Homo sapiens: one gene and its partners. The protein of the gene in region 1 interacts with the protein of each later gene in a pairwise test. Each region holds a gene or a part of one and is shown on either strand. Other genes may lie near its edges.

What was found.
Region 2: the proteins of ERMP1 (region 1) and KLRC1 interact in binary tests that used the Homo sapiens proteins (3 or more experiments, as listed by UniProt).
Region 3: the proteins of ERMP1 (region 1) and SLC22A23 interact in binary tests that used the Homo sapiens proteins (3 or more experiments, as listed by UniProt).
Region 4: the proteins of ERMP1 (region 1) and MR1 interact in binary tests that used the Homo sapiens proteins (3 or more experiments, as listed by UniProt).

Annotation. Positions count from the first base shown.
Region 1 is NC_000009.12:5,823,118-5,826,617, reverse strand, and holds part of ERMP1 (endoplasmic reticulum metallopeptidase 1), read left to right. Parts: intron 1-1,398; coding exon 1,399-1,526; intron 1,527-2,616; coding exon 2,617-2,722; intron 2,723-3,500. UniProt on the Homo sapiens protein: Within the ovary, required for the organization of somatic cells and oocytes into discrete follicular structures.
Region 2 is NC_000012.12:10,445,528-10,447,952, reverse strand, and holds the end of KLRC1 (NKG2-A/NKG2-B type II integral membrane protein), read left to right. Parts: intron 1-320; coding exon 321-421; intron 422-1,290; coding exon 1,291-1,402; 3' UTR 1,403-1,925; downstream 1,926-2,425. UniProt on the Homo sapiens protein: Immune inhibitory receptor involved in self-nonself discrimination.
Region 3 is NC_000006.12:3,447,051-3,450,550, forward strand, and holds part of SLC22A23 (solute carrier family 22 member 23), read right to left. Parts: intron 1-3,500.
Region 4 is NC_000001.11:181,050,983-181,054,482, reverse strand, and holds part of MR1 (major histocompatibility complex class I-related protein 1 isoform 1 precursor), read right to left. Parts: intron 2,249-3,500; coding exon 1,973-2,248; intron 911-1,972; coding exon 806-910; intron 1-805. UniProt on the Homo sapiens protein: Antigen-presenting molecule specialized in displaying microbial pyrimidine-based metabolites to alpha-beta T cell receptors (TCR) on innate-type mucosal-associated invariant T (MAIT) cells.

The DNA of each region.
Region 1 (3,500 bases):
CAAGTATGGTTAATAGGTAATTTCTTCTTAAGTAGGAATGGGGTCTGGAATTTAACAGAGCCCAAACAAGCATTTTAATTTTAGCTAGCTACAGAGCCTTCCTCAGATTTGCAAAGAGAGGGAAAAATGAACATTGAATACCTACCAGGTGCTAGGCACTGGGCATTATCTTGTGTGACTCTTAAACCTGTGAGGTAGGTATCATTAGCTTGCTCTTTCAACCAGGAAATAGTGGAGTAAAGTGACAGAGCTCAAATTTACTTCCAAATCTTTCTTGCTCTCAAATCCACGCCAAACTCTTTGGCACCCTGCTTCAAATGTGTAAACCCAGAAATGTTACTGCCTGAGTTACGTTAGTGCTTATTTACTTTGATTACTCTTTAAGTTTTCTGATATGGAAAGTTTCAAATATATTCAAAAGCAGAATTGTTTAATGAACCCCAGTGTACTTATCTCCCAGCTTCAGCAGTCTGATCTTGTTTCTTTCCTACCACTACCCTCCCAACTTCTTGATTATTTTGAAGCAGATCTTAGCTATATCAGTTCCTCTCTAAAAGTATTTCACTCTGTGTTGCTGGCAGATAAGGGCCCTTTTTGATACCACCAATTGCCTCACCTAAAAAAACCTAACAGTAATTCCTTGGTATCATCAAATATCCAATCAATTCCTTTAATTGTCTCTTACAATGCTTTAAAAAAGCAAGACAGTTAAGTCATCTTTATAGTTACTTTTAATTAACATACAAAATTTCTGAATCAAGAAGAGGTTCAGAGATTCAACTGAGTGTGTGTTCTGGGACCTAGGATACTACTTAGGTCATTAGTCTCCTTTCCTGTGACTTACTAGATTAGGTATCTTCTTTTTAGTTTTCCATCACATAATCCCCTTGGAGAAGCCTTAAAGGAATGTTACACCATCCAAAGTGACCTCTCTGTGCAGCTTTTATGATTTTGGCAGGAAAACAAGCAAGAAAGGAGTGGGTGCAGTGGGAGATGATGCAGGAAGCTGTGAGCACCAGAAGTGAGACTATTACAGAGGATGTGGAATACGGGTAAAGAATAGAACAGATTGCCTTGGTTTGCTGAGAATACCAGTTTCCAGTATGACTTTAGGTCCCCTCAGGTTACTTCATTTAGCAGACACTAATTGAGTGACTCTGGTGGGTCAGGCATGGTAGTAGGCATTGAGAGTAAGTCAGTGAGCAAACCAGACAAAGATCCCTTCATGGAACTTACTGCTGGTGGGTGTGATTGTCACCTGATGATGACAGAGCTATGCTTCTGGTCATGCAGCTATTGTGATGCTTCTCTGAGGAGAAAGCTCCATTCCTAGTCCTAATGGGTCATATTGTAAACATTTTAAAATCTGAGCAGCAAATTTGTTTTTCTGATTTGAAGGTGCCAGTGATGATGCAGTTAGCTGCTCAGTGATGCTGGAAGTCCTTCGCGTCTTGTCAACATCTTCAGAAGCCTTGCATCATGCTGTCATATTTCTCTTTAATGGTGCTGAGGAAAATGTCTTGCAAGTGAGATTTTACTGTTTTAAATATCAGGCTTGAATAAGGATGAGATTAATAATAATAGCTAAATATTATTTACTAAATAGTAAATGCATTTTTTATGACTCCTGTGGGTAGTATAAAATAATATGCAGAAAAATACTTTATGAGCAGTACTTTAACAAATTCACAACCACTTATGTAGAGATGTTTAATATTTGGAAAACTCCACTTAGCAGATTATTGTGGCAGGATTTGATTGAGAGAAGGGCTCTCGCTGGCATAATTACTCTCCTCAGGTTTTCTTTGACATTGAAGTTTCAGAGATGTTTTGAGACAGGCACAAATAAATGCCCAGCCATATGGATCGTCTCTTCTCCTGTTCTCTTTTTTTTCTTTCTTTTTAAAAAGAGAAGGGGGCCAGGCACGCTGGCTCATGCCTATAATCCCAGCACTTTGGGAGGCCGAGGCAGGCAGATCACGAGGTCAGGAGTTTGAGACCAGCCTGGCCAACATGGTGAAACCCCGTCTCTACTAAAATTACAAAAATTAGCCAGGCGTGGTGGTGGGTGCCTGTAATCCCAGCTATTCGGGAGGTTGAGGCAGGAGAATCGTTTGAACCTGGAACGTGGAGATTGCGGTGATCCGAGATCGAGCCATTGCACTCCAGCCTGGGCCACAGGCTCTGTTTCAAAAATGAGCAAACAAAAAAAGAGGGAGTCTCGCTATGTTGCCCAGGCTGGTCTCGAACTCCTGAGCTCGGGTGATCTTCCCACCATGGCCTCCCAAAGTTTTGGGATTACAGGTGTGAGCCACCGTGCCTGGCCCTCTTTGCCTTTTCTTTTGCACAGCCTTGTACTTACCAGGGATGTTGTTTGGCACCGCTGATGGTCACCAGGCTGCCTTCTGTGATAGGTGACTTTCCGAACCTGATGTGCATGGCCATTATGCATAGGAAAAGAAGCAGAAGATGTCTTTGGATACTGCCTTTGAAGAGCGATTATTTTGTTTTCATATTCCTTACCTCATCAAAGTAGTCTCTCTGTGTTTAAGCAAAATCAAGACTGATAATTTAAGATTGTTTAACAAATATTTGTTTTCTTTCCTTCTCTTTAAGGCCAGTCATGGTTTCATTACTCAGCACCCCTGGGCTAGCTTGATTCGTGCATTCATTAACCTAGAGGCAGCAGGTGTAGGAGGGAAAGAACTTGTATTCCAAACAGGTATGTGAGATTGTGCGTTGTATATTTTAATGCAATTCTAGTTTTTGTAAAAGTAGAAAGTTTTTGATTATAAATAATATCTTCAATAAACAGTCTCTTGAATGAGCATTCTTTTTAAAGCATGAGGTGGTGTTAGCTTGTCTTTGTTAAAAATTTTGAACCAAATAATGCAGCATCTAACACTTGTATAGTGCTTATTATATGCCAAGTGTTGTTCAAACCATTTCATATATATTAAGTCATTGAATCCTCCAAACAACATGTAAGATAAGTACTGTTACTTCCATTTTAGAGATGAAACTGAGTCCAGAGAGATTATAACTTGCCTAAGGTTTCACAGTTGTTTAATGGCAGAGTGTGATTTGAACCTAGACAGTCCGGGTCCAGAAACTTTGTTCTTAACCTCTAATTGGATTGTTATATAGGTAGTGAACTTTTAGCCACTGTGGGTGGTTATGATATAAATATTGTTAAATGTCAATCATTTCATGAGTTAAAATGAGAAAATTTACCTGTAGTGTATGTAACAGGTTTAAATTTATCATTGATTTAGTGGAATGTTAAAAAAATTTAGTAATATTTAATCAGCCAGAATAATTTTTATTTTATTGTTTTTTTAGAGACAGAGCCATGCTCTGTCACCCAGGCTCGAGTGCACTGGTGCCATCATGCAGCCTTGACCTCCTGGGTTCAAGTGGTTCTCCTGTCTCAGTTTCCTGAGTTGCTGGGACTGCAGGTGCTTGCTATCACGCCTGGCTATTTAAAAATTTTTTTGTAG
Region 2 (2,425 bases), on another chromosome or scaffold:
GAAATATAGCACAAAAATAGTTTGATTTAGTCACAGTATCTGGAGGAATGAATGCACAGTATCAGGAGACTTATTTAAATCCTTACTGTGTTTATTCAGTCAATTGGGGTAACTATTATAATGCAAGAATTAAAACTTCTTTATTAACATGAGAAGAATAAAAGTACTAAGTATAAACATTGACGGGTTCATTTATATCAAAATTATAAACATTTATGAAAGTTTTTGGCACTGCAAATAGTGGTTTTCAAATTTAATATATTGTTTTTGTAATGTTTTCATAATTATTATTTAAGTGAAAATTCTTTCTTTTCTTTTAGAAATTTCTGTCCATCATTTCACCATCCTCATGGATTGGTGTGTTTCGTAACAGCAGTCATCATCCATGGGTGACAATGAATGGTTTGGCTTTCAAACATGAGTAAGTTGTTTTGTATGGCGCTATATAACAATATATATATAAAGGATAAATTCAGAAGAATAATATGAATAAATCTATGTGGAATCATAGAGATGAAGAAAGATGTGGAAAGTTAGTGAAATGCTGACATAAATATTTTACAATAGACCATAGTAGTCCATATATTTCAACCGCTCATTGGTCAGCTAGTAACCTTCTTGATTATCAGGTGTCCAATCTTTGGCTTCTGTGGGCCACATTGGAAGAAGAAGAGTCTTGGGCCACACATAAAATACACTAACACTAACGATAGCTGACGAGCAAAAAAAAGAAAAAAAAAATCACAGAATGTTTTAAGAAAGTTTACGTATATGTATTGGGCCGCATTTGAAGCTGTCCTGGGTCACATGCGGCCCGTGGGCAGCGAGTTGGACAAGCTCGAGCTGGACTATCAGGGAATTGCAGTGCTTGTTTTTATTAAAAAGCCACACTTACTTTTTTTCTTAAGAATATCCTCAAAGCACAAGAGTAGTGCTGTTGGCATATTGCTATAATTTTGTTATTAGTAGTTATTGTTGTCAATCTCTTATTGTGCCTAATTTATAAATTAAATTTTATCACAGTTATGAATGTGTAGAGAAAACATAATCTCTCTATAGGTTCTGCACTATCTGCCGTTTCAGGCATCCACTGGAATCTTGAAACATATCCCTCGTGGATGAAGGGGGACTACTCTGTTGAGTGTTCAGAATAATGACTCTTACTAATATTATGAAAAATTTAATTACCCTTTTCCATGAAATTATTTTCTTACAGTACATGGAAAATGCTTTCGTCTCATGAATCATTTGCTTAAAATGTAACAGAATATGGATTTTTCTCCATTACAGGATAAAAGACTCAGATAATGCTGAACTTAACTGTGCAGTGCTACAAGTAAATCGACTTAAATCAGCCCAGTGTGGATCTTCAATAATATATCATTGTAAGCATAAGCTTTAGAGGTAAAGCGTTTGCATTTGCAGTGCATCAGATAAATTGTATATTTCTTAAAATAGAAATATATTATGATTGCATAAATCTTAAAATGAATTATGTTATTTGCTCTAATAAGAAAATTCTAAATCAATTATTGAAACAGGATACACACAATTACTAAAGTACAGACATCCTAGCATTTGTGTCGGGCTCATTTTGCTCAACATGGTATTTGTGGTTTTCAGCCTTTCTAAAAGTTGCATGTTATGTGAGTCAGCTTATAGGAAGTACCAAGAACAGTCAAACCCATGGAGACAGAAAGTAGAATAGTGGTTGCCAATGTCTGAGGGAGGTTGAAATAGGAGATGACCTCTAACTGATAGAACGTTACTTTGTGTCGTGATGAAAACTTTCTAAATTTCAGTAGTGGTGATGGTTGTAACTCTGCGAATATACTAAACATCATTGATTTTTAATCATTTTAAGTGCATGAAATGTATGCTTTGTACACGACACTTCAATAAAGCTATCCAGAAAAAAAAAAAAAGCCTCTCCTGGGATTATTTGTGACTGCATTTATTCTCTAAAGTAATTTTTAAAGATTAGCTTCTTTATAATATTGACTTTTCTAATCAATATAAAGTGTTTCCTTCAATGTACTGTGTTATCTTTAATTTCTCTCTATTGTATTTTGTATTTTGGGGGATTGAAGTCATACAGAAATGTAGGTATTTTACATTTATGCTTTTGTAAATGGCATCCTGATTCTAAAATTCCCTTTAGTAATTTTTGTTGTTATAAATAGAAATACAACTGATGTCTGCATTTTGATTTTATATCTACTTATTCCACTGATTTTATATATGTAAATCTATTATGTCAACTATTGATTTATTTCTGGGTGTTCTATATAACGAGCAATTTTATCTGCACATGATCACACTTTTATTTTTTTAATCTATATGCTATAACGTAGTTTTATTTTCATTTATTTTCACTGGCTAGGGTTTTATACCCATAGTTGAATAGAAGGTACAATCAAAGTTC
Region 3 (3,500 bases), on another chromosome or scaffold:
TCTGACTGCATCATATCCCTTATCCCACTTAATACTCTTTAATGGTTTTCCTTTGCTCTAAAATTAGAGGAAAAGTTCTTAGCACGGTTTATAAGCCATCGCCACCCCCCATTCCCATATCAATTGCTATCAATTCCAGGCCCTACACACCACAGGGCCTTTGCAAGTGCCATTTGCTGTCTCTGGAAAACACACACATCTCTCCTCTTTTGCCTCTCTCTCTACCTCCTACTCAAACCTCAGCTCTCATCTCAGATGTCACTTTCTTACATAGACCAGTCTGTCTAGGTCAGGGTTTTGTTGTTGTTGTTCTAGTCTCTCAATTCCCTTTCTTTCTACACGCTTAACTCACTTTGTAATGAAAAGATTATTACTTGATCAGTTTGGGTGTGCCTTCCCCAGAAGTCTCTAAGCTCTATGGAAGCTGAGCTGTCTACTTTCACATATCATTGTATCCCCAACACATAGCACAATGCTCAGCTCAGAACAGGCACTCAAATCTGTGAAAAGGAGGAGAGAGGAAAGAAACTTTCTTTTTTTTTTTTTTTTTTTGTCTGAGACAGAGTCTTGCTCTGTTGCCCAGGCTGGAGTGCAGTGGTGCAATCTCGGCTCACTGCAAGCTCCGCCTCCCGGGTTCACGCCATTCTCCTGCCTCAGCCTCCCAAGTAGCTGGGACTACAGGTGCCCGCCACCACACCTGGATAATTATTTGTATTTTTAGTAGAGATGGGGTTTCACTGTGTTAGTCAGTATGGTCTCCATCTCCTGACCTCATGATCCACCCACCTCGGCCTCCCAAAGTGCTGGGATTACAGGCATGAGCTACCATGCCTGGCCTCTCTCTCTCTTTTTTTTTTTTTTTTTTTGAGATAGATGGAGTCTCACTCTGTTGCCCAGACTGGAGTGCAATGGCGCAATCTTGGCTCACTGCAACCTCTGCCTCCTGGGTTCAAGCGATTCTCCTGCCTCAGCCTCCTGAGTAGCTGGGATTACAGGCACCCACCACCATGCCCAGCTAATTTTTGTATATTTAGTAGAGGCGGGGTTTCACCATGTCGGTCAGGCTGGTCTTGAACTCCTGACCTCAGGTGATCCACCTCCCTCGGCCTCCCGAAGTGCTGGGATTACAGGCGTGAGCCACCGCGCCCGGCCAAAAAAATTTTTTCAAGTGGTCCAGGGTCACACTCATTAGTGTGATAAATGTTTAACAACCGGCTCTATGAAGAAAAAAAACCCTGATCTCCACTGTTTGCCAATTCCTATGGTGTAAATGCTCCCACCATGGTGAATTTCAAGCTGCCAGCATGACATTACTGAATGTGAAGTTGGATAGACACGTGCAGCAGGCTCAGAGTCAATAGAAGCCAAGCTGGCTCCCACACACCACCAGTTTGTGGCAACCTCAGGACAAAGATTCAGAAAGTCCACCATGTTTTTTTGTTTTTTGTTTTTTGTTTTTTGAGACGGAGCCTGGCTCTGTCCCCCAGACAGTTAGTGCAGTGTTGTGATCTCCGCTCACTGCAAGCTCCGCCTCCCGAGTTCACGCCATTCTCCTGCCTCAGCCTCCCGAGTAGCTGGGACTACAGGCGCCCGCCACCACGCCCTCCTAATTTTTTTGTATGTTTAGTAGAGACGGGGTTTCACCACGTTGGCCAGGATGGTCTTGAACTCCTGACCTCGTGATCCGCCCACCTCGGCCTCCCAAAGTGCTGGGATTACAGGCGTGAGCAACCGCGCCCAGCCCCCACCATGTTTTTAAATGACACCAACTTTCGACTCAATCCTATCTTGGACTAAAGGCCAAAGTAAAGGCACCTGCAGAAAATGTTGCTACAGAGAGGCAGAGGGAGACGGAGAGGGAGAGGGAGAGATCTGCAGATGGTTCAGAACAGGAAGATGAAGAAGGAAAGGGAGACCTGTGACCTGGGAAGACAGCTATCTCCCAAACGGAGGTGGAAAGGCTGCTTAACAGCTGGCTAGCCTCTAATCCTTACATTAATAAGGGCCACTGCCAAACTAAATGTTTAGGACGTTGTTACAAGCAAGTCAACGTCTGCATGAAATGCTGGTTATATCCTCTGACCTTTCTAGCAATTTATCCTAATAGCTCAGAAAAGCAAAACAGGTATCTCCAACCCCAAAATAAAGAAGTTATAAGATCATAAAAATGTTAGAAGAAAACATAGGATTTCCCCCCAGTCTTCCAGGAATCTTCCAAGCCTTAAAGCTAACATAAGAAATCATAAAAAAGAAGATTAATTCATACAACTCTAACCAAACCATACGTTTCTACATAACAAAAATATCATGTACAAAATTTAAAAAACCAAACAGCAAACTCGAGGAAAATGGTTACAAGTCATCCAGAAGGGTTAATTTACATCATACATAAAGTGTACCTATAAATACATAAGAAAATAATGCTTCTCACAGCATATACACACACATAAAGGCAAAGGAAATGAAGAGACTGTTCAAAGAACAGGAAATATGGATGGCTCAAAAACTTTCAAAAAGATGTTTAACTTCCTTCATAACAAGAGAAATGCAAGTCACAACCACCACCAAATACAATTTTTTGCACATCAAACTAGAAAATATGTAAAGATTTGATAATCCCCTGGGTCAGGGAGGGTGTAGGGAACAGAACCACACATATTATTAGTATAATTGTGCATAGCTAAGATTTCTACAGAAAACACTCTGACAGTATTAACATAAAAATGCAGCCTACTTTCACCCTCCCACTTCTAAAAATTTCTTACACGTGTGCAAATGTCTGTGCATGCCAAGATTTCGTGATATATTGTGAATATAACAGCAAAGACTGGAGACAAACTTAATGCTTCCTCGGTAAGTGATTAGTTAAATAAATGGCAGTCCAGTCTGACAATGGAATACTATGCAGACATAAAAAAGAATGAGTATCTCTATGTACTGATGTATTCATCTCCAGCATAAGTGAAAAAACAGTGTTTCGGATACGCTAGTGTTTCTGAGACAAAATATGTAAATGAAAGTAGAACATTTCTGGAAGGGGATGTGAGAAACTGGTAACCATGGTTGCTTCTGAAGAGGGAAACTGGGGGCAGAGACAGAAAGAAATGTTACTTTTATGCTATGCTTTCTGTACAATGTACATGTATTACCTACTATAGTCAATTTTTAAAAATAGATATGCATGAAGATATCCACTGTTGTTGCATATACTAGACAAAAGCCACCACTGGGATGACCTCATGGTAGTCAGTTCAGTATTTTATTATTTTTTTTTGAGACGGAGTCTCGCTCTGTTGCTCAGGCTGGAGTGCAGTGGAGTGATCTCGGCTCACCGCAACCTCCGCCTCCCAGGTTCAAGCGATTCTCCTACCTCAGCCTCCCGAGTAGCTGGGAATACAGACGTAAACCACCATGCCCGGCTAATTTTTGTATTTTTAGTAGAGATGGGGTTTCACTATGTTGGCCAGGCTGGTCTGGAACTCCTGACCTCGTGATCCGCC
Region 4 (3,500 bases), on another chromosome or scaffold:
GGTCTATGTCTATGAAGGAAAACCAAACTTCTGGTCCACTTTGGGTTCAAAGCATGGTCTCATCGGTACTATCCTGTGATCAATTTGAGCAATTAGTGAAGCCAGAGCCAGGAGATAACCTTACCAGGCTCTATTGTAAGCTCTATGAAAACAGGGATCGTATCTGTCTTGTTCATTGTTATATCCCAGCAACCAGTACAGTGCCTGGAGCACAGTAGGTCATTAATGTATACTTACTGAATGAATTTATGTTATTCCACATTATCAAGAGCCTATATATCTCCTACTTCTCCTCCCCTTTTCCTTACTCTAAGTCCCATTCCCTGAAGGTATCTACTCTTACATATTTAATGTTTTGAATAATGAATTTACAAGGAAAAGGACTTTCATATGCTTGGGATGAAAGAATGGTGGTCAAAATGGGAAAACTGACTGAAGTCTTGAAACAAAGGACACTGCCCCAGAAGTCAATAGTAATTAATAATAAAAAGATGGTTTGGAAAAAGACAAATCAAGATCCCCATATCTTCTCTGACCCAACTTCTAGGGGGACAGTTCCCCTGGACAGATGTACTAGTTTGTTGATGTCAGGCATCACCTATGAAAAGAGACCACTCTCCCTGTAAGCTTTATCCATGCTTTGTGTCCCCTACATGGTGGGAGGGTTGTCCCAGGTCCTTCTGTGATCCCAGCCTGAGAGCCAAGCCATTTCTGAATGGAGGAGGGAGCAGCAGGTGCAGAAAATAAAACTGGAGAGATGCAGGAGAGTCTGCAGCCCCCTGGATCCCTTCCATGTGCCTCTCACCTCGGGGCCTTCTTCTCCAGACTAGAACACCAACTCCAGCCAGCACAATGACAAGGACAATGGACCCAGAGACAGCTTTCATCACAAGAGGGATAGTTTCTGATTCTGAAAGCAAGCAAATGAGAAAAAATCCACAAGTCCCCTTTCCCTTCTGTGTTAACTTTCTGGGACTTTTGTCCCTGTGATCATCAGGAAACCCAACACCATTTTCCTTACTGTTGCTTCTCACTCATCAATCTGACCACTAATGGAATATCTGCTTGTGTTTTCTTGTGTTTAATTTTTTTTTTTTTTTTGAGACAGCGTCTCACTCTGTCGTCCAGGTGGAAGTGCAGTGGTGCCATTATAGCTCACTGCAGCCTCAACCTCCTGGGCTCAAGCGATCCTCCCACCTTAGCCTCCTCAGTAGCTGGGACTACAGGCGCATGCCATCATGCCCAGCTAATTGTTGTGTTTTTTGTAGAGATGAGATCTCAGTATGTTGCCCAGGCTGGTCTTGAACTCCTGGGCTCAAGCAGTTCACTCGCGTCAGCCTCCCAAAGTACTGGCATTACAGGAGTGAGCCACTGCGCCTGGGTTGTGTTTTTTTGTTTTTTGTTTTTTTGTTTTTTTGAGAGGGAGTCTTGCTCCCTTCGCACAGGCTGGAGTGTAGTGGTGCGATCTCGGCTCACTGCAACCTCCACCTCCCAGGTTCAAGCGATTCTCCTGCCTCAGCCTCCAGGAGCTGGGATTACAGGCATGCGCCACCATGCCTGGCTAATTTTTGTATTTTTAGTAGAGATGGGGTTTCACCATGTTGGCCAGGCTGGTCTCGAACTCCTGACCTCAAGTGATCCACCTGCCTCAGCCTCCCAAAGTGCTGGGATTACAGGCATGAGCCACTGCACCCATTCGTGTTTAATTTTTAAATTTTTAATTTGTAATGTAGTAAATAGCAATAGATATAACCCACATCAGCAAAAGCTCTCTGGGGTCCTCAATAATTTTTTAATAGTATGAAGGCGTCCTGGTTCCAAAAAGTGTGAGAACCACTTATTTAAAAGACCCATTCTAAGGCACACTGAGTGAGGCAGTGATCTATCCTCCCCTCCCTGGCAGCGAGCATGGTTTCCTGCTCACCCCTTTCTCCAGGCTCTCTCCCTAGACAGCCACGATCCCCGTCCTTACCCTGGGGGACCTGAAGAACCATGTGGACACCGCAGTGCTCCACATGACAGGAGTAAAGGTTGCTGCTCTGAGGATCAAGCTCAATTGATGCCCACGCCTGATAGGTTCCATCCCCACTGGGAAGAATGTCTCCATAATCAATTTCTTGGACAATTTCTTCCCCGTTTTTCATCCATGTCATGTAAATTTCTGGGGGGTAAAAGCCATGAGCTTTGCAGAAGAGAGCTGTAACCCCTGGAAAAGTTTCTTTGCGATTTACTCTGACCAGTGGGGGCTCTAGGAAGAAGAAGCTAAAGTTAAATCAAAGTGCCTTATGTACTGAGCATATAATATTAGAACTTGGCAACTGGCTTTCCTAATTTTTCTTTATTGCAGGAAACTTCTAAAGCTAAGAATGACCCAGAACTCAGGTTCATCAACAACAAACGTATTTACGTATACCTTCCATGATGGCAAGGTGCTAGGTAGTGAAGAATGTGGAGTTGGCCCATGCTCCATCCTCTAAGGGGGGAAAGTCATACAGCTTTGACTGTTTGGAAAGTGTGCTGGGGTTGTTTACTAGTAACCTTTGAAATACCTTTATGTGTCAAGGAAAACTGACCCATAAAATGTGTAAGTGACTGTTCCCAATAAGTAAGTCAGCAATAGATTGGAGATTAGAACTCCTTGTTCTCATTTCTGTGTTTAGTGCACGTAAATAACACAGCCATCCCCACTCAGTTTTGGCTCCGAATTGCCTTGTGTACTTGCGCTGGCATTTTGATGACTGCCATCAGGTACAAACATATGTAGTAGATCATGCCATGGTTGTGCCTTCGAAGAAACTGATATCATAGAAGGGCTCCAGCAGTGACACCAAAGAAGTACCCACGTGTGACCTTGCTTCCTCATGACTACTCTTAATTTTCCATACAGTCCTGTCCTTAATGTTTCTTGCTGAAATTGGGTCAAACAGCCATACCGAGACCAAAGGCACTATCTGGGGGGGACTGCTTCCTGCTCATCTCTGACTTGCCTCCTGACCCCCACCTTATCATCGGCCAACCCAATACGGAGAAGAGCCTTCACTCCAACAATGCTTTCCTTGTCTCTTTACCGAGGCATGATATTTGGTAGTAGAAAAAGGCTTTCCAACATTAAAAGTAAAATAAATGCTACTAGGAGGGACTGTGCTTTTTGATAGGGCCTGTAAGAAATTAATCCAAGATCCTTTTCTAGGAATGTGTTTTTTCTTTTCTTTTTTTTTTTTGTTTGTTTTTTTAGGAGTGTGTTTTGACCAAAAGGTTGAAAATCCATTAGGACACTGAATGTAGACAGAGGCCTGGAGAGGGGAGCTTCCCATACTCTTCCCACACACATTGTATCTAGGAGTTTCCTGTAGCATCATACAGGTGTGATTAATTTTGAATAACAAGACCATACATGAAAAGTTCTATATGAACTAAAAGTTGACCAACTGAATCATATCTTTAAGGTATAAGAGGAGCTCTTTGCTGAAAGGAATCTTATCATTAATACTTTTTTTTTT